Linked DNA regions of Homo sapiens. The protein of the gene in region 1 interacts with the protein of each later gene in a biochemical or structural test. Each region holds a gene or a part of one and is shown on either strand. Other genes may lie near its edges. The genes, in order: GTF2F1, ARNT, AHR, DAPK1, ABL1, TAF1 and GTF2E1.

Region 1 (4,653 bases):
GGAGAGGTGAGTGGGCTGGGTGGTGGCTGGGGACAGAAGTGAGGGAAATGGGGTGCCTTGCCATGGATATATCACCAGGCCCTGTGCTGGGAGCTGGGGACTCAGGGGTAACCAGGGCAGACCCCACTCGGCCGTCTCAGAGCTGTCAGTTCAGGAGGAAACAGATAGGAGGCCTTAGGGCCACAATGGGGCACCCCAGAGGGTGCTGCCAGAGCCAGAGTCTGTGACCCGGAGCTCAAATTGGCAGAGCAGGGTGGGGTCTAACTGCCCCCTTGGCTTTCCGCAGGCTGCAGGTCACACAGCCTGATCCACTGCAGGGCAGCAGCTCCAGGCAGGGCACCCGAGGAGGGTTTCTCTAGCAGTGACATCGGCCTCAGAGGTGGGGCGGGTGCAGTTAAGGGCTGTGGAGGGACACAGTGCATGAGGCCAGTGCAGAGTGACTGTGGGCAGGGGGACGAGGCTGGGGGCCCAGAGCACTTGGTCTTGGATGTATGGCTTTGGATGAGACCGTAGGGCCACCACCACCCTAGGGTGCTTGCAGATGGTGGGGAGGGCACTCTGGACGCATCTACAAATGGCATTTGCACAGGTCACAGATGAGCAGATGCTCAAAGAGTCGATGGCTCCCAAAGGTTAAAAAAACACCTTTTTCGGCTGGGTGTGGTGGCTCACGCCTGTAATCCCAGCACATTGGGAGGCCAAGGCAGGCGGATCACGAGGTCAGGAGATCGAGACCATCCTGGCTAACACGGTGAAACCCCGTCTCTACTAAAAATACAAAAAATTAGCCGGGCATGGTGGCGGGCGCCTGTAGTCCCAGTACTCGGGAGGCTGAGGCAGGAGAATGGCGTGAACTGGGAGGCGGAGCTTGCAGTGATCCTAGATGTTGCCAGTGCACTCCAGCCTGGGCGACAGAGCGAGACTCCGTCTCAAAACAAAACAAATAAAACACCTTTTTCCCTCTTTGGTGTTTTTTTGTTTGTTTGTTTGTTTGTGTGTTTTTTTTTGAACTGAGTTTCGCTCTTGTTGCCCAGGCTGGACTGCAGTGGCGCAATCTCAGCTCACTGCAACCTCCGACTCCTAGGTTCAAGCAATTCTCCTGCCTCAGCCTCCCAAGTAGAGAAATGGGATTACAGGCATGCACCACCACGCCTGGCTAACTTTGTATTTTTTGTAGAGACAGGGTTTCACCATGTTGGCCAGGTGGTCTCAAACTCCTAACCTCAGGTGATCTGCCCCCCTCAGCCTCCCTAAGTGTGGGGATTACATCCGTGAGCCACCACGCCCGGCCTGTTTTAGTTTTGTTGTTTTGTTTTTTTGAGACCGAATCTCGCTCTGTCACCCAGGCTGGAGTGCAGTGGCGCGATCTCAGCTCACTGCAAGCTCCGCCTCCCGGGTTCATGCCATTCTCTGGCCTCAGCCTCCTGGGTAGCTGGGACTACAGGCGCCTGCCACCATGCCCGGCTAATTTTTTTCTATTTTTTTGGTACAGATGGGGTTTCACCGTGGTCTCGATCTCCTGACCTCGTGATCTGCCTGCCTCGGCCTCCCAAAGTGCTGGGATTACAGGCGTGAGCCACCATGCCCAGCCCCTGCTTTAGTTTTTAATCATTTTCTTTGGTTTTAAAATTTCTGAAGAGTCATAGGTTGGCTCAGCTCCAAAAGCAACCCCGGTAAATGGCACGAAGTCAGAGCGTCCTCCCCACCAGGTCATGAGCCTCCGAGCCTGTGGGGCAGTTTCTGTACCCCTGCTCCCCTGGAACAACAGCCCCCAGGTCTGCCTGCCTGCTCCACTTTGGTTGAGTTCCTGGGGCTCCACTGTAAAATCAGTCGATCAATCATTGCTGGGGGGGCAGGTTCGCTTTTGCTGTATTTTCCTTAGAATCTGCTTTGTAAGTTTTAGGGAGAAGAATTTGGCATTTTATAGAATTGTGTAAAACCTGGATGTTAACCAAAGGAGAAATGCCATCTCTTTTTTTTTTTTTTTTTTTTTTTTTTTGAGACAGTCTCACTGTCACCCAGGCTGGAGTGCAGTGGTACCATCTCAGCTCACTGGCTCATTGCAACCTCGACCTCCTGGGTTTAAGCGATTCTGCCTCAGCCTTGCGAGTAGCTGGGACTACACACGTGCACCTCCCCACCTGGCTAATTTTTGTACTTTTAGTAGAGAAGGGGTTTCAGCATATTGCCCAGGCTGGTCTCCAACTCCTGGCCTCAAGTGATCTGCCCGCTTTGGCATCCCAATATGCTGGGATTACAGGTGTGAGCCATGGTGCCCGGCCAGAATGCCATCTCTTGATCAGATGTTAAATCTACTTAGCTAAGAACTGTTCAGGCTGGGCACGTGGAGAGCGGATCGCAAGGTCAAGAGTTCGAGACCAGCCTGGCCAAGAGACCAGCCTGGCCAATTTGGTGAAATGCCATCTCTACTAAAAATACAGAAATTAGCCAGGCATGGTGGCGGGCACCTGTAATCCCAGCTACTCGGGAGGCTGAGGCAGGAGAATTGCTTGAACCCGGGAGGTGGAGGTTGTGGTGAGCCGAGATCACACCATTGCACTCCAGTCTCGGTGACAGATCAAGACTCCAACTCAAAAGAAAAGAAAAGAAAAGAAAAGAACAAATGGTGATGGTGTCTCGCCATGTTGCTCAGGCTGGTCTCAAACTCCTGGGTTCAAGCGAGCCTCCAGCCTCGGCCTCCCCTCCCAAAGTGCTGGGATGACAGGCTTGAGCCACTGCACCAAACTGTCACTGTTTTTTGGTGCATGGCTCAGTGTGGTAAAGCCACTCACAGTGTTAAGCAGCAGTTTCATTATCTTTCACACCAGCCTGGGCCTTGCCCATGTTAGATGCATTCCTATTAAATGCAGTCCTTTTTTTTTTTTTGGAGACAGATTCTTACTCTGTCACCGAGGCTGGAGTGCTGTGGGGCAATCTTAGCTTACTGCAACCTCTGCCTCCTGGGTTCAATTGATTCTCCTCCCTCAGCCTCCTGAGTAGTCAGGACTACAGGCACATGCCACCACGCCCGGCTAATTTTTTAATTTTTTGTAGGGATGAGGTTTCACCATGTTGTTCAGGCTGTTCTCAAACTCCTGACCTCAGGTGATCCACTTGCCTCGGCCTCCCAAAGTGCTGGGATTACAGGCGTGAGCCACCGCGCCCAACCTGGCCTGCAGTCCTGTTTTTTAAAGCTTCCCTGAGCAATGAGACAACGTTACATTGTTCCAATGGAAACAGTATGTTTTGTCATTAAAGAAAAATACATCTATAAATTAAGATAACAAAAGATCTGGCTGGGCACGGTGGCTCACACCTGTAATCCCAGCACTTTGGGAGGCCAAGGTGGATCATGAGGTCAGGAGTTCGAGACCAGCCTGTCCAACATGGTGAAACCCTGTCTCTACTAAAAATACAAAAAAAAAAAAAAATTAGCTGGGCGTGGTGGCAGGCGCCTGGAACCCCGGCTATCTGGGAGGCTGAGTCAGGAGAATTGCTTGAAGCCAGGAGGCGGAGGTTGCAGTGAGCCGAGATCACATCACTGCACTCCAGTCTGGGCGACAGAGCGATACTCTGTCTCAGAAAATAAAAAAATAATAATAAAAAATAGCAAGAAACCAGTGTGACTGGATTGGGGCCAGACTCTGAGTCCGAGGGAGGTGCTGAGACTCCAGCAGCACATGGGGACCTGCTCTTTGAGGGACTCGGGGCAGAACGGGAAGGCAGGAAGGGCTGGCTCTATCCGTGTGGTTTCAGGGAGTCCTGTGCCACAGCCCAAGTCCCCGGGGGCCACATCACCTTGAAGGCTATGTGGGTGGTGCCCTGGGGCTCGCCCCCTGCAAGCACAGATGCAGGGTGGTGCCAGGCCCGGCATGAGCCCCCCTGTGCCTGGCCCGCAGGAGGAACAAGGTGCTGAACCACTTCAGCATCATGCAGCAGCGGCGGCTCAAGGATCAGGACCAGGACGAGGATGAGGAGGAGAAGGAGAAACGTGGCCGCAGGAAGGCGAGCGAGCTGCGCATCCACGACCTGGAGGACGACCTGGAGATGTCGTCCGATGCCAGTGATGCCAGTGGTGAGGAGGGTGAGTACGGGCGCCTGGGCATTAGGTCACAGAGGTGCCTGCTCAGGCAGTGCCAGTGAAGGCAAAGTCTACCATCGCTCACAGTGGCCCTAGAATGAGAGGCAAGTGGGGCCGGGCACAGTGGCTCACGCCTGTCATCCCAGCACTTTGAGAGGCTGAGGCAGGCAGATCACCTGAGATCAGGAGTTTGAGACCAGCCTGGCCAACACAGTGAGACCGTGTCTCTACTGAAAACACAAAAATTAGCTGGGCATGGTGGTGCATGCCTCTAGTGCCAGCTACTCGGGAGACTGAGGCAGGAGAATTGCTTGAACCCGTGAGATAGAGGTTGTGTTGAGCCGAGATCACGCCACTGGACTCCAGCCTGGGCAACAGAGAGAGACTCCGTCTCAGAGAAAAAAGAATGAGAGTCAGGCGAGGCCGCCTGGAGGAGCAGTGATGTCAGTCAGGAGGCAAGGCCAGAGCCCGGGAGAGCTGAGCCATGGCCCTTCTTTTTTTTTTTTTTTTTTTTGAGACAGGATCTCTCTCTCTCTCACATGGGCTGGAGTGTAGTGGTACAATCACAGCTT
Region 2 (4,653 bases), on another chromosome or scaffold:
TGCCAATCAATGCCTTTTCTATCTCAAAACTCAGCCCTAAATTAATTCTTCTTCTCCAGGCAGCCTTTCCATAGAGTTCTTTACTCATTTAGGTTAAATGTGCATACTATTAAATGTATAAAAATTCACATGATTTTTGTTATATGTGCTAAAGTATTTTTCATGTGGGTAGTTTTTTTTTTTTATTTTTTATTTTTTTGAGACGGAGTTTCACTCTTGTTGCCCAGGCTGGAGTGCAAAGGCGCGATCTCAGCTCACCGCAACCTCTGCCTCCTGGGTTCAAGCGATTCTCCTGCCTCAGCCGCCCGAGTAGCTGGAATTACAGGCATGCGGTACCACACCCGGTAGAGACAGGGTTTCTCCATGTTGGTCAGGCTGGGGTTGAACTCCCAACCTCAAGTGATCCGCCTGCCTCAGCCTCCCAAAGTGCTGGTATTACAGGCGTGAGCCACCGCACCCAGCTGGTAGGTTTTAAATTCTAAATAGATTGTCACCTTGCATTTCCCTACAATCAGGTCAGTGTACCCACAACACAGGCAAACAACTTTAACTACCAAATCCTTTCTCTTTAGTGGTGCGATTTTCCTGTTACTCTCCTTATGGTCTGGACTCACCAAAGTTAGATCCACGATTGGTGAGACTAGGGTAGGCAGCAGCACCAGGCGATGCAGTTGGGGCACCAGGGAGGGACATGGAGCTGAAGGAGGATGGAGTCTGAAAGCTGCCCACACCAAACTGGGAAGTACGAGTCTTAGCAGTAGCCTGGGTAGCCACCTGCTAAAGAGAGATGGAGAGGGGATATAGAACAAATACAGCATTAACATCATTGCACATACCATGCCTATGAGAGTCAACACTGTCAATCACTGCATCCTTCTGAACCAAGCTCATCACTTATTTCCTATTGTATATTTCTTCCAATTAACTCTCAATCTCTCTTGACACTATTTTTTAGGCAGCTGAGATAAAATTACAAAAAAGCAATGAACTATGGGATTAATAAAAATTGTAAGAATTAAATGAAAGCATCTTATAAACTGTGAAGTTATATAAAACTAGAGGCATTCATAACAGTAAAGTATTATATGCAGGCCAGGCGGGGTGGCTCATGGCTCATGCCTATAATCCCAGCACTTTGGGAGGCCAAGGCAGGCAGACCACCTGAGGTGAGGAGTTCCAGACCAGCCGGGCCAACATGGTGAAATCCCCGTCTCTACTAAAAATACAAAAATTAGCTGGGCATGGTGGCACGTGCCTGTAATCCCAGCAACCCAGGAGGCTGAGGCAGGAGAATCACTTGAACCCGGGAGACAGAGGTTGCAGTGAGCCAAGATCGCGCCACTGCACTCTAGCCTGGGCAACAGCGAGACTCTGTCTCAAAAAAACAAACAACAAAAAAAGTACCATATGCAGAGAAAAACTACTCTGCACCATTATTCTGTCTGTTCTGCATTCATTTGTTCCTAATGATGTATTTTTTATAAAAACTATTTTCTCATGAGAGTTCTGTATATGCATTATAGAATATTCAGAAAGTGAAGGAAAATATAAAGAAAATAAGAATCATTCATAATTCCATGGTTAACATGTTTGGATAATTTCTTCCAGTTTCTATTTTCTCATGCATTTTGTACACAATTGAGATCGTATTGCATATAACATTCTGGAACCTGCTTTTGGTTTTGACTTTTTAAAACTATTACTTGTATAACATAAATATATAGTAATATTAAAGAATCTTTCTTTAGACAGTGTATTTATTGTGCGTTATATTATATATATGAATATTATAAAAGAATTTTTCGGCTGGATGCGGTGGCTCATGCCTGTAATCCCAGCACTTTGGGAGGCCGAGGAGGGCGGATCACGAGGTCAAGAGATCAAGACCATCTTGGCTAACACGGTGAAATGCCGTCTCTACTAAAAATACAAAAAATTAGCCAGGCGTGGTGGCGAGCACCCTGTAGTCCCAGCTACTCGGGAGGCTGAGGCAGGAGAATGGCATGAACCCAGGAAGCGGAGCTTGCAGTGAGCCGAGATCGCGCCACTGCACTCCAGAGCCTGGGCAACAAAGTGACAGTCTGTCTCAAGAAAAAAAAAAAAAAAGAATTTTTCAGCCAGGCGCGGTGGCTCACGCCTGTAATCCCAGCACTTTGGGAGGCTGAGGTGGGCGGATCACAAGGTCAGGAGGTTGAGACCATCCTGGCTAACATGGTGAAACCCCATCTCTACTAAAAATACAAAAAAAAAAAATTAGGCGCAGTGGCGGGCGCCTGTACAAGTCCCAGCTACTTGGAAGGCTGAGGCAGGAGAATGGCGTGAACCCGGGAGGCAGAGCTTGCAGTGAGCCAAGATCGCACCACTGCACTCTAGCCTGGGCGACAGAGCAAGACTCTGTCTCAAAAAAAAAAAAAAAAAGAATTTTTCAACTTTTTTGTAAACAGACATCACTGTAAGTTAGTCATTAATTTTCTCCTTTGCTCCTGCCTTATGGAGTCCTAAACAAAGAGGAAACATCTTAGAATTTACTCCAAAACAAATCTGAAAATCAGACGTGCTCAAAACGTTCCAAGTGAGCAATTCTGATTTAAGGTGAAAACCACAGACTCTACTGAGATTTTTTTTTATTATCTGTGATTTTTAATTAGCTACTCTCAACAAAGATGGAAATTGGAAACCGGAGAACAGGGGTTGGGGAGAAGGTATTTAAAATAGAAAACACTGATTTTACATACGGAAAAAAGCCCAAACAAACAAAAAATAATACACAGGGAACACACAGATGATAAGTTTTACCTGGGCAGAAAAGCCTGAGCGGGTAGTAGGGGTCCAAGTTGGGGTTGCTCCTTGGGTGGGGTTGGAGTGGCGGGAAATCTGGGCCAACATCTGTCCTGCAGAAGCTGATGGCTGGACAATGGTTACAGGAGGGGCTAGGCCACTATTCCTAGGAGTGAATAAATGAGGTAAAAGATTAAAAGGATAGATTTATCACAGAAGCTAGGAATCAAAGGACAATCTAGTGCTATCCCTAGATCCCCTTGACTTCCTGCAGGTTAAGGAAAATTTGATAACAATTTGGAAAAGACAAGAAAGACTGACAGTCACACACTGACCAGGACACACAGAGATGGAGCCTAGAACATGGCAATAGGACAGGTGCAAAGAAATAGGAGGAAGAAAAGCAGCTTGTTTGCCTCACGCTAGGCCCTACAAGCTTCACTGCTTTTTCTGAAGTAACCAGAGAAAGCAAGGGAAGAATAAAATTTGGATTCAGCAGCTGAATCCCTCAGGGCCCTGTAAAGCAGCACATATATACGGGGCTCACCTGAAATTCTCTGCCGGCCGGGGGGTAGGAGGGAATGTGTTGCCCTGGGAGAATAGCTGTTGGGTGGCAGGGACAGTGCTGGAGGAGATGCCTTTACTCTGATCTGTGGACCAAAAGGAGTTGGGGAAGGGCCAGTCAAGGGGCTGTAGTATATTAGTTCAGCAAGTTCCTATTTACTCAGGTGGTATTATGATTAAGTGGAAAAACACTGGAAGATTACTGACTGGGCAGTGGCATGCCCATCAGTAAGTGATCTAAATGAGAATTTAAAAGGATAATGAGAAAGAAACATACCCGCATTGATGTTGTGATAGATTTCTGAAAATCTTGGATCTCTATCCTGGGCAAATAAACCATCTGACTTCTCAAGGGGCTTGCTGTGTTCTGGTCCTGTGGTTGTCACAGGCTGAACCACCTGTGGAATACAATGATAAAAATAACCATTAAAGATTTAACATGACAATTCAATAACCCTAAAATTCATATACAACATATGTACATTCTAACTAGTACCGGAGAACACTTCCTAAGTAAATACTCCCTACCCTCTTCAACGAAGAGGACACAACTCACCTGGGAATGATTGTAGCTGGCCAGTCCATCTCTTCCTGGTACCATGTCCAATTCTGTTTGCTGTTGCTGCTGCCTATATGTCAAAGGCCAGTTGACAAGACAAATAGAAAAAAAAATTTTTTTTAAAAAAGAATCTGGAGAAAGAACCTTAAAACAAATTAAACAGGCCGGGCATGGTGGCTCATGCCTGTAATCCCAACACTTTGGGAGGCCGAAGCAGGTGGATCACCTGAGGTCAGGAGTTCGACACCAGCCTGGCCAACATGGCAAAACCCCGTCTCTACTAAAAATACAAAAAATTAGCCGGGGGTGGTGGCAGGCACCTGTAATCCCAGCTATTTGGGAGGCTGAGGCAGGTGAATCACTTGAACCCAGGAGACAGAGGTCACAGTGAGCCTAGATCGTGCCATTGTATTCCATCCAGCCTGAGCAATGAGAGCAAAACTCCTTCTCAAAAAAAAAAAAAAAAAATTAACCAACCGAACAAAAAATATATGGGATTGCAAATGACCACCCCCTGGGTGACTGCTCAACAGATGATTATTTCACCCTTTTTTACCTGGGTGCCAGCTGTCCTGAGCCCATCTCCAGGGGTAAATTAGCTGTGGGACCTAGTTGTGGCCTCTGGATTGTGTTGGAGAGTGTAGGCCGTGGTTCTTGGCTAGAGTTCCTAGGAAACCAGAGTAGACAGTAAAGAGGGGGTGGAGAGGGAGGAAGGGGGGAGAGAGAGAGAAAGAGAAGAATAAGATTCTGTA
Region 3 (4,149 bases), on another chromosome or scaffold:
AACTGTCACTGTTGGACGTCAGCAAGTTCACATGGAGGCATTGATGCATGCTATTCACAATTATTCCAAACCAAATTTTAATTTTTGCTTTTAGAAAAGGGAGTTTAAAAATGGTATCAAAATTACATATACTACAGTCAAGATAGAAAGGGTGCTGCCACGGAGTGGTGAGGTACCGTCTACATTTCACATTATTCTGGGCACCACAAAATATACAAAACTTTATCAGGGAAACTAAGATTCTTTTAAATTAGAAAATATTCTCTATTTGAATTATTTCTGTCACAGTAAAAATAAAATACTTTGAGTTTTGAGCTACTGGATTCTTATTAGTTCCCCAAATACAAAGTTAGAGAACTAAACTAGTTTTTCCTATCATGTTAACCTCTGCTTTTATCTCAGATGTTAAAATAAATGGTTTGGTGCTTTTTATAAAAAGATAATCTCAGTGCTTTCCTCCTTCACTGTTTCATCTAAGTGCCTCACATTTTTTTCTACCTATAACACTCTAGGATGTATATTTTATATAAAGTATTCTTTTTCTTTTTTAAATTAATATCTTTCTGCACACAAATATTATTTGTGTTTCCTAAATCCAACCATTTTCATTAATTCAGGCATATTTTAACTCCACTGCTTACCTACTTTCTTCAGGTAAAGGGCAAATAATGATCGAAAAAATAATTATTTATTACATAATTTAGTTGTTTCTAGACTATAAATGTTGCTATGTGCCTTATGTTGAAAAAATTTAAAAGTAAAATGTCTTTCCAAATTATTTCTTAATTATTATAAAAATATTAAGACAATAGCACTTAAATTCCTCAACAGTGTTTTCAGAAGAAATAAATATACCACTCTTTACCTTTATTGATATCTCCATGATGATAGTTGAATGTTGCAATGTGAAAAATCTGCTGTTAACTGCAACCTTGTTTATTAAATTGCAAGAAGCTTTATTTCTAGCTTTTTAATTAAGCAAAGCACCCATTTCAATGTGTATAAATTGTCTTTAAAAACTGTTTTAGACCTATAATCCTTGATAATATATTGTGTTGACTTTATAAATTTCGCTTCTTAGAACAGTGGAAACTATGTGTTTTTCTCATATTTGAGGAGTGTTAAGATTGCAGATAGCAAGGTTTGGTGCAAAGTATTGTAATGAGTGAATTGAATGGTGCATTGTATAGATATAATGAACAAAATTATTTGTAAGATATTTGCAGTTTTTCATTTTAAAAAGTCCATACCTTATATATGCACTTAATTTGTTGGGGCTTTACATACTTTATCAATGTGTCTTTCTAAGAAATCAAGTAATGAATCCAACTGCTTAAAGTTGGTATTAATAAAAAGACAACCACATAGTTCGTTTACCTTCAAACTTTAGGTTTTTTTAATGATATACTGATCTTCATTACCAATAGGCAAATTAATCACCCTACCAACTTTACTGTCCTAACATGGTTTAAAAGAAAAAATGACACCATCTTTTATTCTTTTTTTTTTTTTTTTTTGAGAGAGAGTCTTACTCTGCCGCCCAAACTGGAGTGCAGTGGCACAATCTTGGCTCACTGCAACCTCTACCTCCTGGGTTCAAGTGATTCTCTTGCCTCAGCCTCCCGAGTTGCTGGGATTACAGGCATGTGCCACCATGCCCAGCTAATTTTTGTATTTTTAGTAGAAACGGGTTTCACCATGTTGGCCAGACTGGTCTCAAACTCCTGACCTCAGGTGAGCCTCCCACCTTGGCCTCCCAAAGTGCTGGGATTACAGGCGTGAGCCACTGCATTCAGCTCTTCTTTTCTTTAGATATGAGAGCTGAAGAGCTTAGACACATTTTGCATGTATTATTTGAAAATCTGATGGAATCCCAAACTGAGATGTATTAAAATACAATTTTTGGCCGGGTGCAGTGGCTCACGCCTGTAATCCCAGCACTTGGGGAGGGCGAGGAGGGTGGATCACGAGGTCAAGAGATGGAGACCATCCTGACCAACATGGTGAAACCCTGTCTCTACTAAAAATACAGAAATTAGCTGGGCATGGTGGCGTGAGCCTGTAGTCCTAGCTACTCAGGAGGCTGAGGCAGGAGAATAGCCTGAACCTGGGAATCGGAGGTTGCAGAGCCAAGATCGCCCCACTGCACTCCAGCCTGGCAATAGACCGAGACTCCGTCTCCAAAAAAAAAAAAAATACAATTTTTATTTCTTTTACTTTTTTTAGTAAGTTAATGTATATAAAAATGGCTTCGGACAAAATATCTCTGAGTTCTGTGTATTTTCAGTCAAAACTTTAAACCTGTAGAATCAATTTAAGTGTTGGAAAAAATTTGTCTGAAACATTTCATAATTTGTTTCCAGCATGAGGTATCTAAGGATTTAGACCAGAGGTCTAGATTAATACTCTATTTTTACATTTAAACCTTTTATTATAAGTCTTACATAAACCATTTTTGTTACTCTCTTCCACATGTTACTGGATAAATTGTTTAGTGGAAAATAGGCTTTTTAATCATGAATATGATGACAATCAGTTATACAGTTATAAAATTAAAAGTTTGAAAAGCAATATTGTATATTTTTATCTATATAAAATAACTAAAATGTATCTAAGAATAATAAAATCACGTTAAACCAAATACACGTTTGTCTGTATTGTTAAGTGCCAAACAAAGGATACTTAGTGCACTGCTACATTGTGGGATTTATTTCTAGATGATGTGCACATCTAAGGATATGGATGTGTCTAATTTAGTCTTTTCCTGTACCAGGTTTTTCTTACAATACCTGAAGACTTACCAGTATTCTAGTGTATTATGAAGCTTTCAACATTACTATGCACAAACTAGTGTTTTTCGATGTTACTAAATTTTAGGTAAATGCTTTCATGGCTTTTTTCTTCAAAATGTTACTGCTTACATATATCATGCATAGATTTTTGCTTAAAGTATGATTTATAATATCCTCATTATCAAAGTTGTATACAATAATATATAATAAAATAACAAATATGAATAATATGTTTTAATGTAAATTCTTTCTGGTCCACGTAAAGGAAATTATTTATTCTGTAGTATTATAACTATGTTAGATGAGGGCAATCTACAATACTTAGGGATATGTTAAGTCAGTAATTCATAAACTTCTTATACAATTTTGCCCCCCAATGTCTGACCTTTATCTGGATATAAAAAACACTCTCAGTAGCTTCATAAATTAAAATGCTTCTGAAATGAACTTTTTTAAAGCCCTGTGTTATCAGTGTAGTAGTGTGTCTTAGATTAAAATCCAAAATCCTATTTTAATATTTTAAGAATATTTCTGAAGAAATTCGAAATAACCCTTGTTAGCTGTATTTTGTGCTTAGTTTAGAAAAACCATTGCCCAAACTTAGTATTTCTGTTTAATAAGTATAAATGATACAGAAGCCTTTGGCCTTAAATTCATAACTGTTGAACATTCATGGAAAACCCTGCAATTAGAATTGATTGAAGAAGAATTCCTGAGAAAATGTTTTCATTCTTGTGACAGTTATTTTTCTATTAGTTTTATATTTGTTCTTTACAATTAGGCATTTTTCTCAACTAGCATATCATAAGTTAGCATCATACTTAATTCTGAACATTTTAGACTAATCCTGAGTCTTTAAGAATTACATAAAATATTTAGTTTTAACTATTTGATCTGAAAAAAATCAAGTAAAAATCCTGATAACCTGAGTGCATCTCTGCTTGCGCTTAGGTGATTTCTGTCACCATGAATGACTCTAGCTTGTCCAATTTCACCAGCTCTACCAAACACCGACCCAGGGATGTTGGCCACTGACAGGGCTGGATGACATCTCTCATTTCTTTCACTGTCTGCAGATGACCTTGCTTCCGTTTTTACTAATAAAATCAAGGATATCATCCTAAGTTTGTACCTTCACCTCAGCAATTCCTCTATCCTTGGACTTACCTCCAGTATGTGAGGAGGAGAGTTTCCTGAACTCCAGGGTTAGCCCCCGTCCTCTCTCGTTCTCATGCACACAGCTTCGACACCTGCTTTCTGAGAGGCTCTCCTTCTCTGTAGGATTTCCTGTGAATAGGTCCTCCTCCATCCTGGAAAAAAATTACTTGAACCTGCACTTTCTTCTCTATTAAATTAC
Region 4 (3,787 bases), on another chromosome or scaffold:
ATCTTTCACAAGGTCCAGGTGAACCTGTGCCGGTGGATCCACCAGCAAAGCACAGAGGGCGACGCGGACATCCGCCTGTGGGTGAATGGCTGCAAGCTGGCCAACCGTGGGGCCGAGCTGCTGGTGCTGCTGGTCAACCACGGCCAGGGCATTGAGGTCCAGGTCCGCGGCCTGGAGACGGAGAAGATCAAGTGCTGCCTGCTGCTGGACTCGGTGTGCAGCACCATTGAGAACGTCATGGCCACCACGCTGCCAGGGCTCCTGACCGTGAAGCATTACCTGAGCCCCCAGCAGCTGCGGGAGCACCATGAGCCCGTCATGATCTACCAGCCACGGGACTTCTTCCGGGCACAGACTCTGAAGGAAACCTCACTGACCAACACCATGGGGGGGTACAAGGAAAGCTTCAGCAGCATCATGTGCTTCGGGTGTCACGACGTCTACTCACAGGCCAGCCTCGGCATGGACATCCATGCATCAGACCTGAACCTCCTCACTCGGAGGAAACTGAGTCGCCTGCTGGACCCGCCCGACCCCCTGGGGAAGGACTGGTGCCTTCTCGCCATGAACTTAGGCCTCCCTGACCTCGTGGCAAAGTACAACACCAGTAACGGGGCTCCCAAGGATTTCCTCCCCAGCCCCCTCCACGCCCTGCTGCGGGAATGGACCACCTACCCTGAGAGCACAGTGGGCACCCTCATGTCCAAACTGAGGGAGCTGGGTCGCCGGGATGCCGCAGACTTTTTGCTGAAGGCATCCTCTGTGTTCAAAATCAACCTGGATGGCAATGGCCAGGAGGCCTATGCCTCGAGCTGCAACAGCGGCACCTCTTACAATTCCATTAGCTCTGTTGTATCCCGGTGAGGGCAGCCTCTGGCTTGGGCAGGGTCTGTTTGGACTGCAGAAGCAAGGGGGTGATGTAGCCCATCCTTCCCTTTGGAGATGCTGAGGGTGTTTCTTCCTGCACCCACAGCCAGGGGGATGCCACTCCTCCCTCCGGCTTGACCTGTTTCTCTGCCGCTACCTCCCTCCCCGTCTCATTCCGTTGTCTGTGGATGGTCATTGCAGTTTAAGAGCAGAACAGATCTTTTACTTTGGCCGCTTGAAAAGCTAGTGTACCTCCTCTCAGTGTTTTGGACTCCATCTCTCATCCTCCAGTACCTTGCTTCTTACTGATAATTTTGCTGGAATTCCTAACTTTTCAATGACATTTTTTTTAACTACTATATTGATTGTCCTTTAAAAAAGAAAAGTGCATATTTATCCAAAATGTGTATTTCTTATACGCTTTTCTTTGTTATACCATTTCCTCAGCTTATCTCTTTTATATTTGTAGGAGAAACTCCCATGTATGGAATCCCACTGTATGATTTATAAACAGACAATATGTGAGTGCCTTTTGCAGAAGAGGGTGTGTTTGAAATCATCGGAGTCAGCCAGGAGCTGTCACCAAGGAAACGCTACCTCTCTGTCCCTTGCTGTATGCTGATCATCGCCAGAGGTGCTTCACCCTGAGTTTTGTTTTGTATTGTTTTCTGACAGTTTTTCTGTTTTGTTTGGCAAGGAAAGGGGAGAAGGGAATCCTCCTCCAGGGTGATTTTATGATCAGTGTTGTTGCTCTAGGAAGACATTTTTCCGTTTGCTTTTGTTCCAATGTCAATGTGAACGTCCACATGAAACCTACACACTGTCATGCTTCATCATTCCCTCTCATCTCAGGTAGAAGGTTGACACAGTTGTAGGGTTACAGAGACCTATGTAAGAATTCAGAAGACCCCTGACTCATCATTTGTGGCAGTCCCTTATAATTGGTGCATAGCAGATGGTTTCCACATTTAGATCCTGGTTTCATAACTTCCTGTACTTGAAGTCTAAAAGCAGAAAATAAAGGAAGCAAGTTTTCTTCCATGATTTTAAATTGTGATCGAGTTTTAAATTGATAGGAGGGAACATGTCCTAATTCTTCTGTCCTGAGAAGCATGTAATGTTAATGTTATATCATATGTATATATATATATGCACTATGTATATACATATATATTAATACTGGTATTTTTACTTAATCTATAAAATGTCGTTAAAAAGTTGTTTGTTTTTTTCTTTTTTTATAAATAAACTGTTGCTCGTTGCATTAGTTTTTTTGATCTTTAATTCAAAAGGATTTCTTTTTACTTGTTGTGGTTTTACTGTTGTCACCCCACATAGCAGGACAACCCAGTCCAAAACCTAGAAAATCATTACACCTCAACTCTCAGGGTTATTGAGATGCCGATTATTACTCAAATTAGGAATGGTGTGGGAAAGTGAAAAGAGTTCAGATAATTTTCACATTTCTTCCCATTGTAAATAAAACAGGCCCCTTAGATTTTTCTCGGGTGAACCAAAAAACCAAACTGACTCTTTTAGTTTTGGCAACAGGGAACAGAGGAAGCTTTGCGACTTCTACACAAAAATGATGGGGATGGCACCAGGAGGAAGAGAAAACCTACAGCAAAAAGACCTTCGTGCCTTTCTTACATTTATAGTTCATTTATGTTTCAAGCAAGTTGTCCACAATAAACATGATTAACTTTCATAATGAGAAAAGAAGTCCTGATGAATAAAATTAAAACTAGACATAGGTGTGTCTACAAAGGATGAGACTGAAAGGGAAACTGTGGTCGCCTTAAGGAGCGGAAACTCCTTTTCTTGTCTCAGCTCCTTCCTGAGTGTTGGCTTCACTCTCTCCTGCTTCAAAAGACTGCTTCCTATAGCGGCAGGTAAGCTAAAAACCAGAGAGAAGGGGTTTGTCTCTTGCAGCATCTATATGTAAAATCCCAGAGTGGGACTCTGATTCGATTAGCTTGTGTCACATAGCTATCCCTGTGCAAATTTGGAAAAGACAGAGTTACTAGGATTGGCCTCATCACCCAATGAGCTGTTGGGGGAGAAGCAGTTCTCCCCAAGACTAGGGTTCTGTTAGTAGAAGAAAGGTGAGGGAGGATGCTGGGGAGACACATTTGAGTTACTGCAAAAGTCTTAATACTTTTTTTGAGAGAGAGGGCTTGGCTTCTGTGACCCAGGCTGTGGTGCGGTGGCATGATCATAGCTCACTGTTGCTTCAAAGTCCAGAGCTCCAGCAGTCCTTCCAACTCAACCTCCTGAGTAGCTAGGCCTGCAAGGGCACACCACCGTGCCTGGCTAATTTTTTTTTTTTTTTTTTAAGGAGATGATCTCACTATGTTGCCCAGGCTGGTCTCAAACTTCTGGCCTCAAGTCATCCTCCCACCTCTGCCTCCTGAAGTGAGAGGATTACAGGCATGAGCCACAATACCCAGCCAGTGCTTTTGTTTTATGCAAGTCCTAGGACAGGCACCTGTTCATATGATTGTGGGGTCCCCGGGCTCCTGAAATGTTGGGACCACAGTCAGGAATCATTGCAACCCAAAGGTCAAGAGCTTAAGGATCACTCAACTCACTGCCCCATCTTGGGAAATGCCCTGGGGCACTCTTCAGGGGGCAGTTTGGAGTCTGTACCAGGAGCTTCTGTACCAGGAGCTCTGGTCAGGCTGAAACTGGCCACTGCCCACTGTATGCAGCTGGCTCTCTCCCCTGCAGGTGGGAGGAAACAAGACCATAGCTTACCTCCTGTGTCCATAGTGAGAATCAAAAGGTGCAAATTCTAGGAGTCAGAAAGAAAAGCCAATCATGGGACCCTGTCTCTTAGAGTTGCTGTGAAATGCACTCAGTTGCCATGTTCCTCGTCACCTCTTTACTATAGTGTAACAGCCTCTGGGTACCACGTCCA
Region 5 (4,653 bases), on another chromosome or scaffold:
TGTCCCGCAATGCCGCTGAGTATCTGCTGAGCAGCGGGATCAATGGCAGCTTCTTGGTGCGTGAGAGTGAGAGCAGTCCTGGCCAGAGGTCCATCTCGCTGAGATACGAAGGGAGGGTGTACCATTACAGGATCAACACTGCTTCTGATGGCAAGGTAGGGGACCCTTGGCAGGGGGCGCTGATGGGCCCAGGGCAGGGGAACCAGAGGTCCTGCTGTCGGATTGATAAATTATTGCAAGAAAGCTCAACCAAGAAGATGTTTAAAGAATCTTTCAGGTGGGAGTCATTCCATTAGCCTTATGAAGACCCTTTATTGAGGATCCGTTCTGTGATATTACAAGTTCCTGGGACTGGTATGATTCTCTTATTGTCTTGCTAGAGTTTTGTTGTTAGCAAGTTACTTAAAATAGGAGGAATATCTGTTGGGTTTTGGACACATTTTTTACAATAAGATTCTTCCTTTAAAAAAAATATTTTATAATGATAGAAATCATCCCCAACGAGAAAAATTCAAATAATAGATAACCTTTCTTAGAGCGAAAGACCACTTTACTATCCCCTCCCCCACAGACGCCTGGCACGTGGGCTTCTTCCTGCGGATGAACACATTCATGGAGAGGTGTGTGGACATACGTGCATACACGCATGCAGTTTTCAGTGAAAACCGGGATCAAACCCACAGCTTACCAAACCCAAAGTGTGGTGTTGTAAGGGAGGTGGCCTATATGATTTTGTGGTCTTCATATAAATAATCCTTAAGAGTCCATAAAGAGAAGGGAGGAGTTAACATTGACTGAGGTATTGCTATAATACCTGCATCTTTGCATTAAAGAAAGGGAGGCATAAAGAGATCTTGCCCGATGTCAACCTAGTGAGTCACTGATGGAATAGGCTTGGATCCCACAGTTTATTCTACTGCACCAGGCTGTAGTTGAGGTACAGTGTTGATAGGTGGTCCCGATGGTGTATGTTTGTTTGTTTGTTTGTTTTTGAGATGGAGTCTTGCCCTGTCACCCAGGCTGGAGTACAGTGGTGCGATCTTGGCTCACTGCAACCTCTGCTTCCCATGCTCAAGTGATCCTCCCACCTTAGCCTTCCGAGTAGTTGGGACCACAGGCGCACACCACCATGCCCAGCTGTTTTTTGTTTGTTTATTTGTTTTGAGATGGCATTTTCGCTCTCATTGCCCAAGCTGGAGTGCAATGGTGCGTTCTCGGCTTACTGCAACCTCCACCTCCCGGGTTCAAGCATTTCTCCTGCCTCAGCCTTCCAGGTAGCTGGGATTACAGGCATGCACCACCACACCCAGCTAATTTTGTATTTTTAGTAGAGACAGGGTTTCACCATGTTGGTCAGGCTGGTCTCAAACTCCTGACCTCAGGTGATCCACCTGCCTCAGCATCCCAAAGTGCTGGGATTACAGGCGTGAGCCACCACGCCTGGCCGTTTTTGTATTTCCAGTAGAGACAGGGTCTCGCCATGTCGCCCAGGCTAGTCTCAAACTATTGAGCTCAAGCAATCTGCCCTCCTCGGCCTCCCAAAATGCTGGGATTACAGGCACGAGCCACTGTGCCCAGCCTATATTTTTTAAATAGTATGTAATGCATGCATATGGTTAAAAAAAATCAAAAGAACAAAATGAATTACAGTAAAAAGTAATCGTCTCCTAATTCACTTTTCCTGCCCAGAGGCAAGCACTGGTACTAGTTCCTTCTAGAGTTACCTGGACACAGATGGATGGTATATAGATGTTTATGTGGATGTTTATATTCAAAAAGGCACGCAAATGATACATGCACGCGAATGCATCATGCTTCTCCCGTGTGATAATACACCTTCGAGATTGTTTTATGGCAACAGGTTTAGAGCTGCCTCATTCTTACCAGTGACTGTGTACCGTGGATGGACTGTCACTTATTTCAGTAGTCCCCTGCTGGTTGACTTTTAGGTTGTTTCCAATCTTTAGTTATTGTAAATAATGCTGATATGAGGTGGCTTTCAAACCTTTTCAAAAATCTGGTTCTGCTGTAAGAAAAACTCATTTTACACCACCACCCAGCCCTCACAATATAACAAAAGTTTCATGAAGTCTTACCTACCCTTACTGTATGTAACGCACTCTGATAGTTTGTATTTCATTCTGTTCTATTTCATTTTTTAAAAATTCTGGTTGTAATCCACTAAATTTATTTCATAGACTGACTAGTGGCCCATGGCCTGGTTTGAAAATGCGTTGCACGTGCTTCTTTATGTGGGTGTAAGTGTGTGCAGATAAGTTGCCAGAACTGACTGAAGGTTATGTGCATCACCAGGTCACCCTCTATAGAAATTGTACAAATTTGTTCTCCCACAAACAATCCATGAAAGGGCTTGTTTCCCCTTAACCCACACCAACAGTTTATTATTAGACATGTAAAAACACCTTTGTCACTCTGACTGGTAAAGAATGGCATCTCATTATGTTGAATATCCATGTGGCATATTTTGGGTCATCTTTATGCCATTTAGTAAATTCATCTTTTTCCTACATGTTAGAAATATACCAAGTGTATATGTGTATCTAGGCCTGTTGACCTCTCTGTTCTCTTCCATTGGTCTGTCTATCCGTATGCCAGTACCAAACTTGTAATTGCTATGGCTTCATACCATGTTGTGGTATCTGATAGGCTAGTCCCCACTTACCTTTTTAACTTTTTTTTTTTTTGGCTGTCTTCACACATTCACTTGTACCATATGAACATACATATACTTCCTTTTTAATGTTCTTATTTTTCTTCACATCCCAAAGTCTTCTGGCTGAAATCCTATTGCCCATATCTGATGCTTTCCACCACTGCAGAATTCTTTAGTACCAACACTGCAGTGTGCGTGACGGACAAAAGAGCCTGTTATCCCTGTGTGACTAGACGTGGGCCTGTCAGCTTGCTTTTTGGGTTATTGTTCTTATCCCAGAGGTGGAGCTGCGTTCTTCCATTCTGAGGGACGTACTTCAGGACATTGGGCCCTTTGAAAGAGCCTTCAGACCACAAGGGTACCTTTCTAGTGAATCAGAACACCAGGGTGCACCGCCCATGGGGGGTGATTTTCTGGAGCAGACAGCTTGCTTCCCATGTGTGCTATTTATCCAAGGCAAGTCATGCTGCACCGAGATAGTCACTTGAGGTTTGCACCGAACAGGATAATGGTTTCTTTTCCCTAGAGCTGTTTAATCAGCAACCTTGGAACAGATGCAGGCAGGCATGATCTAGTGTGACAGCTCATTAGCTAGGGGTTGATCTAAAATACTGTTCAAATGGGCAAGGAAAGGCCTGCGTATGGGATATGTGATTTGCAGAATTTGAGATTCATCCAAAGAGGGAGAATCTGCCTAAGATGCCTCTGTCTAAAAGCTAGTATGTGCCAGGTGGGTTTGTTTCATTCCAGGTAGAGCACAGGGAGCTTATGTGACCAGGCAGTGTCCACCATTGGGCAACACATCACACTTCCCTTGGCGTCTTGCCTCCTCCCTCCCCGTCTGGCACAGACTCTCCCATCAGCCGTTTGGGCACCTGGGGACTTCTGAGCCCACAGCGTCATCCAGCAGACCGTCTGCGGAGGTTCCTTCCTGTGAGGGCCGCACTCGAGGGGGTGTATTGGGTGGGATCGTATCACTGGAATGAGTGAACATCGTTAGAGGGAGCTCCCACAGCTATGCGTGTGACCGTGTGGCTCGCCGCTGAAAAATGCTGCTCACATAGCAGAACTTCGATGCAATCCTTTTTGGATTTCTAAGGGGAAATTTTAAGACCGATAGGAGGAATAGGCTGGGGTTGAATAAGTTTGGTTCTTATTTTTAAATTAGCTCATCTTTAGAAAACAACTGAATTTAGAAGATTCTTCTGTAAGGCCCCAAAGGATTTCTTTCTGCCTCCCCGCTCTTGGCTCTTATTTGTGTCTCTCCTCGTGTTCTGAGCTTTTCAGCAGCCCTTGTGGGTCATCAGCCGAGGACCATCAGCTCGGGGCCCAGAGCTGGGGACTGGGAGTTATGAGCTGGACTCTTGAAGGGGCCAATACTAAACCGAGCCGTTGCCATTTCCTAGGAGCCTTGACAGGCTCAAACATCTCTGGGTACCCGGGGATTTGACTGTCATTGTTCTGATCCTTTCCCAAAGTTGTAACCCTCTGTTGACATAGCGGAATTGAAGATTGATTTTTCTTCACCACCTTCTGCCTAAAGTTCTTAGTTCTGAATGTGTCCACACCTCATTGACTTCTATGAGATGCCCCTGTCACGTTCCTCGATTCCTTCTAGTCCTTAATAGAGTCTTTCCTTTTCTTGAAAGAAATTTGCCCAGTTGACATTTATTTTCATCGTCTGCTGAAGTGACAGATCCAAGGCCCTAAGCTTCAGCAGAGTTGCAGGAAGGGACCATTTACACAGCCTCTTAGATGTTTAAGGTTTACCCGCCCTGACAGTGGCTCAGCAGGCGTAGGCCTCCTGGTGAAAAGCCGAGCACATGGCTAACCTGCTCTGGTGGAGGGGCTTTGGACCGTTCTTGTGTACTGCGAGGCTTGCCTTCCTGCTGGTGTGTGAGCAGCTCTCGGGGGAACTTGCTTCCTGGCTGAGCAACCTGTAAACAGTATGTCTGAGGTGGGACTCCCGGGCCCAAAGC
Region 6 (4,653 bases), on another chromosome or scaffold:
CAGGCGTGCACCACGATGTCTGACTAATTTTTGTATTTTTAGTAGAGATGGGGTTTCTCCATGTTGGTCAGGCAGGTCTCGAACTCCCGACCTCAGGTGATCACCCGCCTCAGCCTCCCAAAGTGCTGGGATTACAGGTGTGAGCCACCACGCCCGGCTGGCTGTGATGTTCTGAGCTGCCAAGAGATAGTGAAATTTTTAGGATCTGAGGCCTAATTCTAGTCCCTGTAATTTTTATTTTATTTTTATGCTCAACCTGGAGGAAGATAGTCCATGTAATTTTTTGCCCTGTTAAGAAGCTAGGCCAGACTCAGGTTTCTTAAAAACATGTGATAAAGATCTTTTTTTTTTTTTTTTTTTTGAGACGGAGTCTTGCTTGCTCTGTTGCCTGGGCCGGAGTGTAGTGGCGCAATCTCAGCTCACTGCAATCTCTCCCTCCTGGGCTCAGGCGATTCTCCTGCCTCAGCCTCCCGGGTAGCTGGGATTACAGGCATGCGCCACCATGCCCATCTAATTTTGTATTTTTAGTAGCGATGGGGTTTCTCCATGTTGGTCAGGCTGGTCTCGAACTCCCGACCTTAGGTGATCTACCTGCCTCAGCCTCCCAAAGTGCTGGGATTACAGGCATGAGCCACCACGCCTGGCCTGAAGTTAAAGATCTTTCTGAACTATAACAGTACTTTATAGTATATTTTTGTTCCCAAGTCCCTTTGTATTTAGAATTCTAGTTTCCTATTTTTCTCCTTAAATAGGTTTTTTTTTTTAAGGTATGCCATGATTAATGTAAAAAACTTTGAAAATACAGTATAGTGTTAAAGTCACTGGTAATCTATCTGGAGATTATCAACTGTTAAGTTTTGGTGTATTTTCAGTGTTCTGTGTGTGTATGTAGTTGAGCTCATTTCCGTATGTACAGTTTTGCATACTGTGCTTTTCACTTACTAAATATTTTTCTCTCTTTCATTTTTTATTTTTCATTGTTGAGACAGGGCCTCACTTTGTTGCCCAGACTGGTTTCAAACTCCTAGACTCAAGTGATCTTCCTGCCTCGGTCTCCCAAAGTGCTGAGATTACAAGCAAGAGCCACCCCACCCAGCCACATAAATATTTTTGTGTCATTTAGAGTTCTTTATAAAAATGTTTAATGACATGGGAAACTCGTTCATTTTATTTTAATTAAATTATTATTTTTTGTAGAGGTAGAGTCTTGCTATTGTTGGTCAGGCTGGACTCCTGGGCTCAGGTGATCCTCCTGCCTCAGCCTCCCGAGTAGCCAAGACTTCAGGGGCATGCCACCACGTCTGGCTTGAGAAACTCATTTTAAATGGAAATAAAGAAGATATGAAACAACATATATGATATCCTATTAGTGTAAATGAAAAAAAGCAGACTATATAAACATAGAAAGCTGGATTACTTTTATATTTTGGAGGAAAAACAAAATTTTTTCTTTTTTGAGACAAGAGTCTCTGTCGCCCAGGGTGGAATGTGTTGGCGCGATCTTGGCTCACTGCAACATCTGCCTCCCAGGTTGAAGTGATTCTTGTGCTTCAGCCTCCCGAGTAGCTGGGATTATAGGCGTGCACCGCTGTGCCCAGCTAATTTTTGTATTTTTAGTAGAGACGGGGTTTCACCAGGTTGGCCAGGCTGGTCTTGAACTCCTGACCTCAAGTGATCTGCCTGCCTTGGTCTCCCAAAATGCTGGGATTACAGGCGTGAGCCACCACACCCGGATACAAAAATGTCTGATTTTTAAAACCTAAGAAATAGGTTTTTTCCCTTCCATTCTGCCCACTTTATGGGTTATATATTACTATTACGAATGTTTCATAATTTACCGATAACATGTTGCATTTGTTAATACAATTTATTACCATTTATTGTTAGCATACTTTACCATATCATTTATTGTCATAATTTAACCAATTCCTTCTTAAACATTTAGGCTATTTAAATTTCAACTATTATAAACAGTATTGCAGTGGACATTTTTGACTGCAACATTATTTTTATTTATTTATTTTTTGAGACAGAATTTCACTCTTGTTGCCCAGGTTGGAGTGCAATGGCACGATCTCAGCTCACTGCAATCTCTGCCTCCTGGGCTCAGGTGATTCTCCTGCCTCAGCCTCCTGAGTAGCTGGGATTACAGGCATGTGCCACCACACCCAGCTAATTTTTGTATTTTTTGTAAAGATGGGGCTTCTCAATGTTGGTCAGGTTGGTCTTGAACTCCTGACCTGAAGTGATCCACCTGCCTCGGCCTCCCAAAATGCTGTGATTACAGGTGTGAGCCACCGTGCTGAGCCTGCAACATTATTTTAAAGTGAGAAATACACTGTGTAGGTTCCTTTTCAGTGGACACATGAATAACTCCACTAACTCGCTCTACTAACATGAGTAACTCTTTTTATCTTTGCCAGAATCTTGATTGAAAGGGGCATAAATGTTTTCTCTGTTACTATTTCCTCCTTGCACTTTGACTAGGTTTTGCAGCCACTCTTGATGATGACAAACCTTGGTACTCCATTTTTCCCATTGACAATGAGGATCTGGTATATGGACGCTGGGAGGACAATATCATTTGGGATGCTCAGGCCATGCCCCGGCTGTTGGAACCTCCTGTTTTGACACTTGATCCCAATGATGAGAACCTCATTTTGGGTATATTACTGGCAGAGGCCAGTGTTTCTTCTCCTTTGAAAACTTGCTGTTAATGTCAACGGGCAGGAGGAAATCAGAAGGGTTGGAGATGATTAGGACTAGAAACCTGTAGGTAGCGGCTTGAGAGAGCGAAGTTTTGGCTGTTAGTTTATATTATTTGTGTATATGCTTAGGGAACACTCACGTAGGAATGTTGGAAAGTTGCAACTTTGAGATGTCAAGAGCATAGTTTGTTCCGTTAGTGAATCATGGACTCGAAACTTCTAGGTAGCAGTTTGAGAGAGCAAAATTGTGGCAGTTAGTTTTTATTATTTGTGTATTCCCTAGGGAAAACTCATGTAGGACTGTCGGAAAGTAGTACCTTTGAGATGTCAAGCGTGTAGTTCACTTAGTGAATCATGTACTAGAAGTGATTTGGGATGGGATGAAAAGATACAGGTGTAGTTCAGTTAGTAAATCGTGGACTAGAAGTTACCTGGGGGGGGGTGGGATGAAAGGTCTAGTTAAGACCTTCACTGGAACATCCGTCACCTTAAAGAAGAAAACTGGATACTTGTCTGTAGGAAAGGTGAATCTTCAGGGAGAGCAACTCAAGTGATTTTTGTTTTATTCTCAGAAATTCCTGATGAGAAGGAAGAGGCCACCTCTAACTCCCCCTCCAAGGAGAGTAAGAAGGAATCATCTCTGAAGAAGAGTCGAATTCTCTTAGGGAAAACAGGAGTCATCAAGGAGGAACCACAGCAGGTGTGTGAAGAAAAAAGGGGCTTGGTGTTTAGAAGAACAAAGAAAGGTAATAGAGAAGGATAGTCTGACCGAGATTTGTTTGATTATCTATCATTAGAACATGTCTCAGCCAGAAGTGAAAGATCCATGGAATCTCTCCAATGATGAGTATTATTATCCCAAGCAACAGGGTCTTCGAGGCACCTTTGGAGGGAATATTATCCAGGTACAAATAGTGTCTTTTCTGTGATAGAGGAGAACCCCATGGCTTTGTTCTGACGGAGGATATGGGAAAATCTTGCTTAGGATGGAATTAGCTAATTTTAACCCTTCTATTTCCTGTTTTAGCATTCAATTCCTGCTGTGGAATTACGGCAGCCCTTCTTTCCCACCCACATGGGGCCCATCAAACTCCGGCAGTTCCATCGCCCACCTCTGAAAAAGTACTCATTTGGTGCACTTTCTCAGCCAGGTCCCCACTCAGTCCAACCTTTGCTAAAGCACATCAAAAAAAAGGCCAAGGTATAATTGAATTCTGGTTAGAAAACAGCTATAAAGGATATTGGGGTATAAATTAAGGGAATGTACCAGGTATTAGATTGTATTAGGGAATTGGTTATTTTCTCAGATGTGATAGAATGTTATTTTGGTTATTTAGGAGAATGTCTTTATTGTTAGGTGATGCATGTGAAAATATTTAAAGGTGAGGTGTCAGAATGACTGCATCTTTCAAAAACTGTCCAGCAAAGTCTATAGAAAGATAAAAGTTTAAAAAAATGGCGAAATATAAACAGCGACGTGGGATAATAAGTGTTCATAGTACAGTCGTCCTTCGTTATCTCTGGGAGATTGGTTCTAGGACCTTCTCTGGATACCAAAATCTTTAGATGTTCCAGTTTCTGATAAAATAGCATAATATTTGCACATAACCTATGCACATCCTCTCCTATAGTTTAAATCACCTCTAGATTACTTATAATACCTACTCCAATGTAAATGCTATGTGAATAGTTGTTAACACTGTTATTGGTTAGGGAATAATGACAAGAAAAGTCTGTACCTGTTCAGCACAGATGCACTTGTATTTTCTGAATATTTTCTATCTATGGTTGGTTGAAATCACGGATGCAGAACCCATACATGGATATGGAGGGCCGACTGTACTATTCTTTGAACTTTACAGTATGTTTGAAAATTTTGATTATGAAATTGGAAAATAGGTAAAATGTTTTTGGTGTGTTTGTCTCAGATTGAACAACGTCATTG
Region 7 (3,979 bases), on another chromosome or scaffold:
TGTAGGGATAGGATACATTTAAAAGGTAACATTTGAATAAAGACATGAAAGATGGAAGGGAGTTAGCTGTGTGAGTACCTAAAGGAAAAATATTCCAGGCAGAGGGAACAGGTAATGCAAAGGCCCTGAGGTAGGAGTGTGTCTGATATGTACAAGGAATACCATGGAGGCTACTGTGGCTAGACAAGAATGAGCAGGGGAAAGAAGTAAGAGGTAGATGATCAGGAAGGATTCCAGATGATGTGGGACCCTATAGGCCATTGCAAAGCTTTTGGCTTTTACCTTGAGTGAGATAAAGAGCCATGTTTTGATTTTCTGTTATGCCAGCTACTCTAGTCGATTCTTCATAGACATTATCTTATATGTTTTTATTCAGAACCTTAGAAAGTAGATGCTTTTATCACCTCATTTTACAGAAAAAGGTATTGAAGTTTAGAGATTAAATAACTTGCCCAAGATGCTTGTGTGTAGAAGAACCAGGATTCAAATCTATGCTATAATACTCTTAAAGCCAATGTACTTGACCATTATGCTACTTAAGCTCCAGTTTGTAAGAAATATTTTGAATATTTTATGGATAGCAGCTCAAAAATGGAACCAGTGAAGTCTGTTATTTTATCGTATTATTTAAATATATGTTAAAATATTGTCTATATGCTATAAAGAAATGCCATTTATATTTAAGGATATTGACTTTCTGAGTTTTACTCCCCAGGGGGCATAGATATGGACGCATTTCAGGAGCGTGAGGAAGGCCATGCTGGGCCTGATGACAACGAAGAGGTCATGCGAGCACTGCTCATTCACGAGAAAAAGACTTCCTCTGCCATGGCTGGTTCAGTGGGGGCAGCTGCTCCAGTGACCGCTGCCAATGGCAGTGACTCAGAAAGCGAGACCAGTGAGTCAGATGATGATTCTCCACCCCGTCCGGCAGCTGTGGCTGTGCATAAACGAGAAGAGGATGAAGAGGAAGATGACGAGTTTGAAGAAGTAGCAGATGACCCCATTGTCATGGTGGCTGGCCGTCCGTTCTCCTACAGTGAAGTGAGCCAACGGCCAGAGCTAGTGGCCCAGATGACACCAGAAGAAAAGGAAGCATATATAGCAATGGGACAACGCATGTTTGAGGACCTCTTTGAGTGAGCTTTCCCTAATTCTTTCTCCTTTCTCTAATGCTCAGTTCAAAAAGGAATGTCTCATCTTTGAAGAAAAGTATTTAAGTGGCTTTCTGCCCCTCTTGATGTAAGCAACTGTCCATCCTTGTGCAAAGATTGATGGTAGAGAGTTTGACTTTTATGCCAGAAACTTTCCCAGCAAGGTAGGGTGCTGAGAATCCTACCCTTCCTTGCTGTCACTACAGTATTAATATTTTACTGTATTTTCTTTTCTTTTTTTTTTTTTTTTGGAGATGAAGTCTCACTCTTGTACCCCAGGCTGGAGTGCAATGGCGTGATCTCGGCTCACTGCAACCTCTGCCTCCTGGGTTCAAGCGATTCTCCTGCCTCAGCCTCCCGAGTAGCTGGGATTACAGGTGCCTGCCACCATGCCTGGCTAATTTTTGTATTTTTAGTAGAGGCAGGGTTTCACCATGTTAGCCAGGATGATCTCGATCTCCTGACCTCATGATCCACCCGCCTCGGCCTCCCAAAGTGCTGTATTTTCTTATCTGATTTTTTTCTTGCCTTATTAAGACATAATTTTCTCCCTTCTGAAATGAGTGAGGGAAGTTCATAAGGTAAATCCTTCCCATCCATCTGTTTACTACAATAGGTTACAATAATTCACTGATCACATCCATTTTATCTGTTCTAGCCAGGCATTCCAAACAATTTCTTATACTGCTGCCCACCAAAGCAGCTTGCCAACAGTCAAATCACTGATTGGGGGAAAAAATCCTGAAATTTTGCTTAGAATTTGAGCATTTCCTCAAAATTGAGATGGATCAATATGTAAGGGGAGGTGGGAGCGTGTGTGGAAGGGGGAGAGATATACTTGAGTCTTATGATTAATGTCTAAACCAGAATTTGTGTCTTTAGAACTGACCAGACTGGTAGATTTTATTGTATTGCTTAATGTCTTTTGGTTTGGATTTAGGATGATAGAAAACAGAAGTATAATTGGTAAACCCTTAGGAAGAAATTAGAAAAACATGGACGTAAGACAAGAAGTCTCTGTGAAGGGTTGAAGAGTGACAAGCATTGGTAACAGTGCCTTAGAACTGTGTCAGTTAGTCTGATTTGGAAATCCTTTATGTAAAGCTGAGACTGGTCCTGGTTTTGTTCCCTTTGGGTACAGACCTCTTGTCAGTGCTATAAATTGTTTAATGAGGCCATTCCAGCAGAAATCAACAGAATAATTGATTACTCTTCTCTCTCTCTGTCACTCTCCCTCTTTCTAAACATCATTGAAGGCTGTCTCTCTTTTAATTTTTGTCAGACACAGTATTTTAGGGTGCATCCAGTATACCATTGAGCATTGTAACCTCAGGAAACAGTTTATTTTGGGTTCTGATATGTAGCATGGTATTTTCCCTAAGGCAGAACTTTAAAAATAAAGAACTTTCACACAAGGGTCTGTAACAATTGTATATCTTACAATATTTTTCCTTGCATTGTAATTTTTAAGTATTTATCATTTTATAGTACACATGTAAAGAATATATGAGCCTTGTATGGAGTGATGTTTCATTTACCTGGGTTGTGTTAATGACTGAATGTTGACAATAAATCTGTTTTATACTGACTGAAGTTTGTTCATTTTAAGTTCTGTAACATCTTGGGGCATATTAAAATGAATATTCTTCCCATTAAAAAAATGTTAAAGACTTTTTTATTAGTCATATTTCAAATGATAGATGCATATGGGATCTAAACTTTTTGTGCAATAAGATGCCTTTGTACCTTGTATACGTAAAGTATTCAACTTTTACACTTGATCTTAGCCAAAAGACCAAGAAGCAATGCTCTTCAGCTTTTAAACATTGTTTTTTAAACTTTTATAGTTCTAGAAGTTAATTTAAATAAAATGGTAATCAGATGTTAATTTTTAAAATGTAGTTAATTTTTTAAACTATTTTTTGTAAGTGTGTTCATGTATATGTAGAATTCGTGTTATGGGAAAATGTCACAAGTGAATATGGAGGTAAGAATAAAGGTATTCATTGCAGCAGTATTTGAAATAGAATAGAAAGATAGATATACTCACTAAATCTGTATTTAGTCCTAAGTACTCAGGAGGCCAAGGCAGGAAGATTGTTTGAGCCAGGAGTTCAAGGCTAGCCTGGGTAATGTAATGAGATCCCATCCCTCCCCAAAAAAGAATGTATTGAGAGGAAAAGATATCCATAATGTGTTAAATATAGGATTCAGTTTTTCTAGGGGTGTGTGTGTGTGAAGAAGAAAGTAGCTAACATATAGTGAACTGTGTGCCAGACACTATTTTAAGTGCTTTATATATGTTAACTCATTCAATCTTTTATAATCTGTGAGGTAGGTATACATATATAAATGTATATATATAAATTAGGGATGAGAATTACAGTGATCTTAATATATTATTATGAAAAAGATATTTTCATTTTGAAAAAGAATCAAACACATTTAATGAAAGAAATAGTAGAGTGTCAAAAGCAAGGTCTTTTTAGGTTGATGCTAGGATTTTTGGGTGAGTAGACCCTCAGTTAAGTAAAATGAAAAAATCCAGAGTTTATCATTTTCTCGGATAAACGTCTCTAAATTTATACTCAAAATCAATGGGAAGATATAATTTAATAGGTAACTACCTCCCTTTCAGTGACATCTAATAAGACTCAATAGAATTTATATTACTTTATCAGATAGGTTTGTCTCTTGAGTGGCACAATAATCTGGTGAGGAGAGACAGTCAGTGACAGAAGGACCAAAAATGGGAGCCCTGCCGATTAGCCTCTGAAGCTCTAGTAAGGGCAGGCTCACACCCAAGGTTGGTAGATACATGTAGT

What was found.
Region 2: the proteins of GTF2F1 (region 1) and ARNT form a complex in vitro, tested with the Homo sapiens proteins (one study listed by BioGRID).
Region 3: the proteins of GTF2F1 (region 1) and AHR form a complex in vitro, tested with the Homo sapiens proteins (one study listed by BioGRID).
Region 4: the proteins of GTF2F1 (region 1) and DAPK1 form a complex in vitro, tested with the Homo sapiens proteins (one large-scale study listed by BioGRID and IntAct).
Region 5: the proteins of GTF2F1 (region 1) and ABL1 interact in far-western blotting, tested with the Homo sapiens proteins (one study listed by BioGRID).
Region 6: of the proteins of GTF2F1 (region 1) and TAF1, one has a biochemical effect on the other in vitro, tested with the Homo sapiens proteins (5 studies listed by BioGRID, with this or other methods).
Region 7: the proteins of GTF2F1 (region 1) and GTF2E1 form a complex in vitro, tested with the Homo sapiens proteins (3 studies listed by BioGRID).

Annotation. Positions count from the first base shown.
Region 1 is NC_000019.10:6,382,742-6,387,394, reverse strand, and holds part of GTF2F1 (general transcription factor IIF subunit 1), read left to right. Parts: coding exon 1-6; intron 7-3,899; coding exon 3,900-4,084; intron 4,085-4,653. UniProt on the Homo sapiens protein: TFIIF is a general transcription initiation factor that binds to RNA polymerase II and helps to recruit it to the initiation complex in collaboration with TFIIB. It promotes transcription elongation.
Region 2 is NC_000001.11:150,813,463-150,818,115, forward strand, and holds part of ARNT (aryl hydrocarbon receptor nuclear translocator), read right to left. Parts: intron 4,569-4,653; coding exon 4,458-4,568; intron 3,972-4,457; coding exon 3,899-3,971; intron 3,741-3,898; coding exon 3,620-3,740; intron 3,429-3,619; coding exon 3,326-3,428; intron 2,945-3,325; coding exon 2,797-2,944; intron 778-2,796; coding exon 615-777; intron 1-614. UniProt on the Homo sapiens protein: Required for activity of the AHR. Upon ligand binding, AHR translocates into the nucleus, where it heterodimerizes with ARNT and induces transcription by binding to xenobiotic response elements (XRE).
Region 3 is NC_000007.14:17,343,131-17,347,279, forward strand, and holds the end of AHR (aryl hydrocarbon receptor), read left to right. Parts: 3' UTR 1-3,017; downstream 3,018-4,149. UniProt on the Homo sapiens protein: Ligand-activated transcription factor that enables cells to adapt to changing conditions by sensing compounds from the environment, diet, microbiome and cellular metabolism, and which plays important roles in development, immunity and cancer.
Region 4 is NC_000009.12:87,706,501-87,710,287, forward strand, and holds the end of DAPK1 (death-associated protein kinase 1), read left to right. Parts: coding exon 1-864; 3' UTR 865-2,134; downstream 2,135-3,787. UniProt on the Homo sapiens protein: Calcium/calmodulin-dependent serine/threonine kinase involved in multiple cellular signaling pathways that trigger cell survival, apoptosis, and autophagy.
Region 5 is NC_000009.12:130,854,942-130,859,594, forward strand, and holds part of ABL1 (tyrosine-protein kinase ABL1), read left to right. Parts: coding exon 1-155; intron 156-4,653. UniProt on the Homo sapiens protein: Non-receptor tyrosine-protein kinase that plays a role in many key processes linked to cell growth and survival such as cytoskeleton remodeling in response to extracellular stimuli, cell motility and adhesion, receptor endocytosis, autophagy, DNA damage response and apoptosis.
Region 6 is NC_000023.11:71,379,256-71,383,908, forward strand, and holds part of TAF1 (transcription initiation factor TFIID subunit 1), read left to right. Parts: intron 1-2,487; coding exon 2,488-2,664; intron 2,665-3,280; coding exon 3,281-3,408; intron 3,409-3,505; coding exon 3,506-3,613; intron 3,614-3,735; coding exon 3,736-3,909; intron 3,910-4,653. UniProt on the Homo sapiens protein: The TFIID basal transcription factor complex plays a major role in the initiation of RNA polymerase II (Pol II)-dependent transcription.
Region 7 is NC_000003.12:120,780,328-120,784,306, forward strand, and holds the end of GTF2E1 (general transcription factor IIE subunit 1), read left to right. Parts: intron 1-715; coding exon 716-1,143; 3' UTR 1,144-2,742; downstream 2,743-3,979.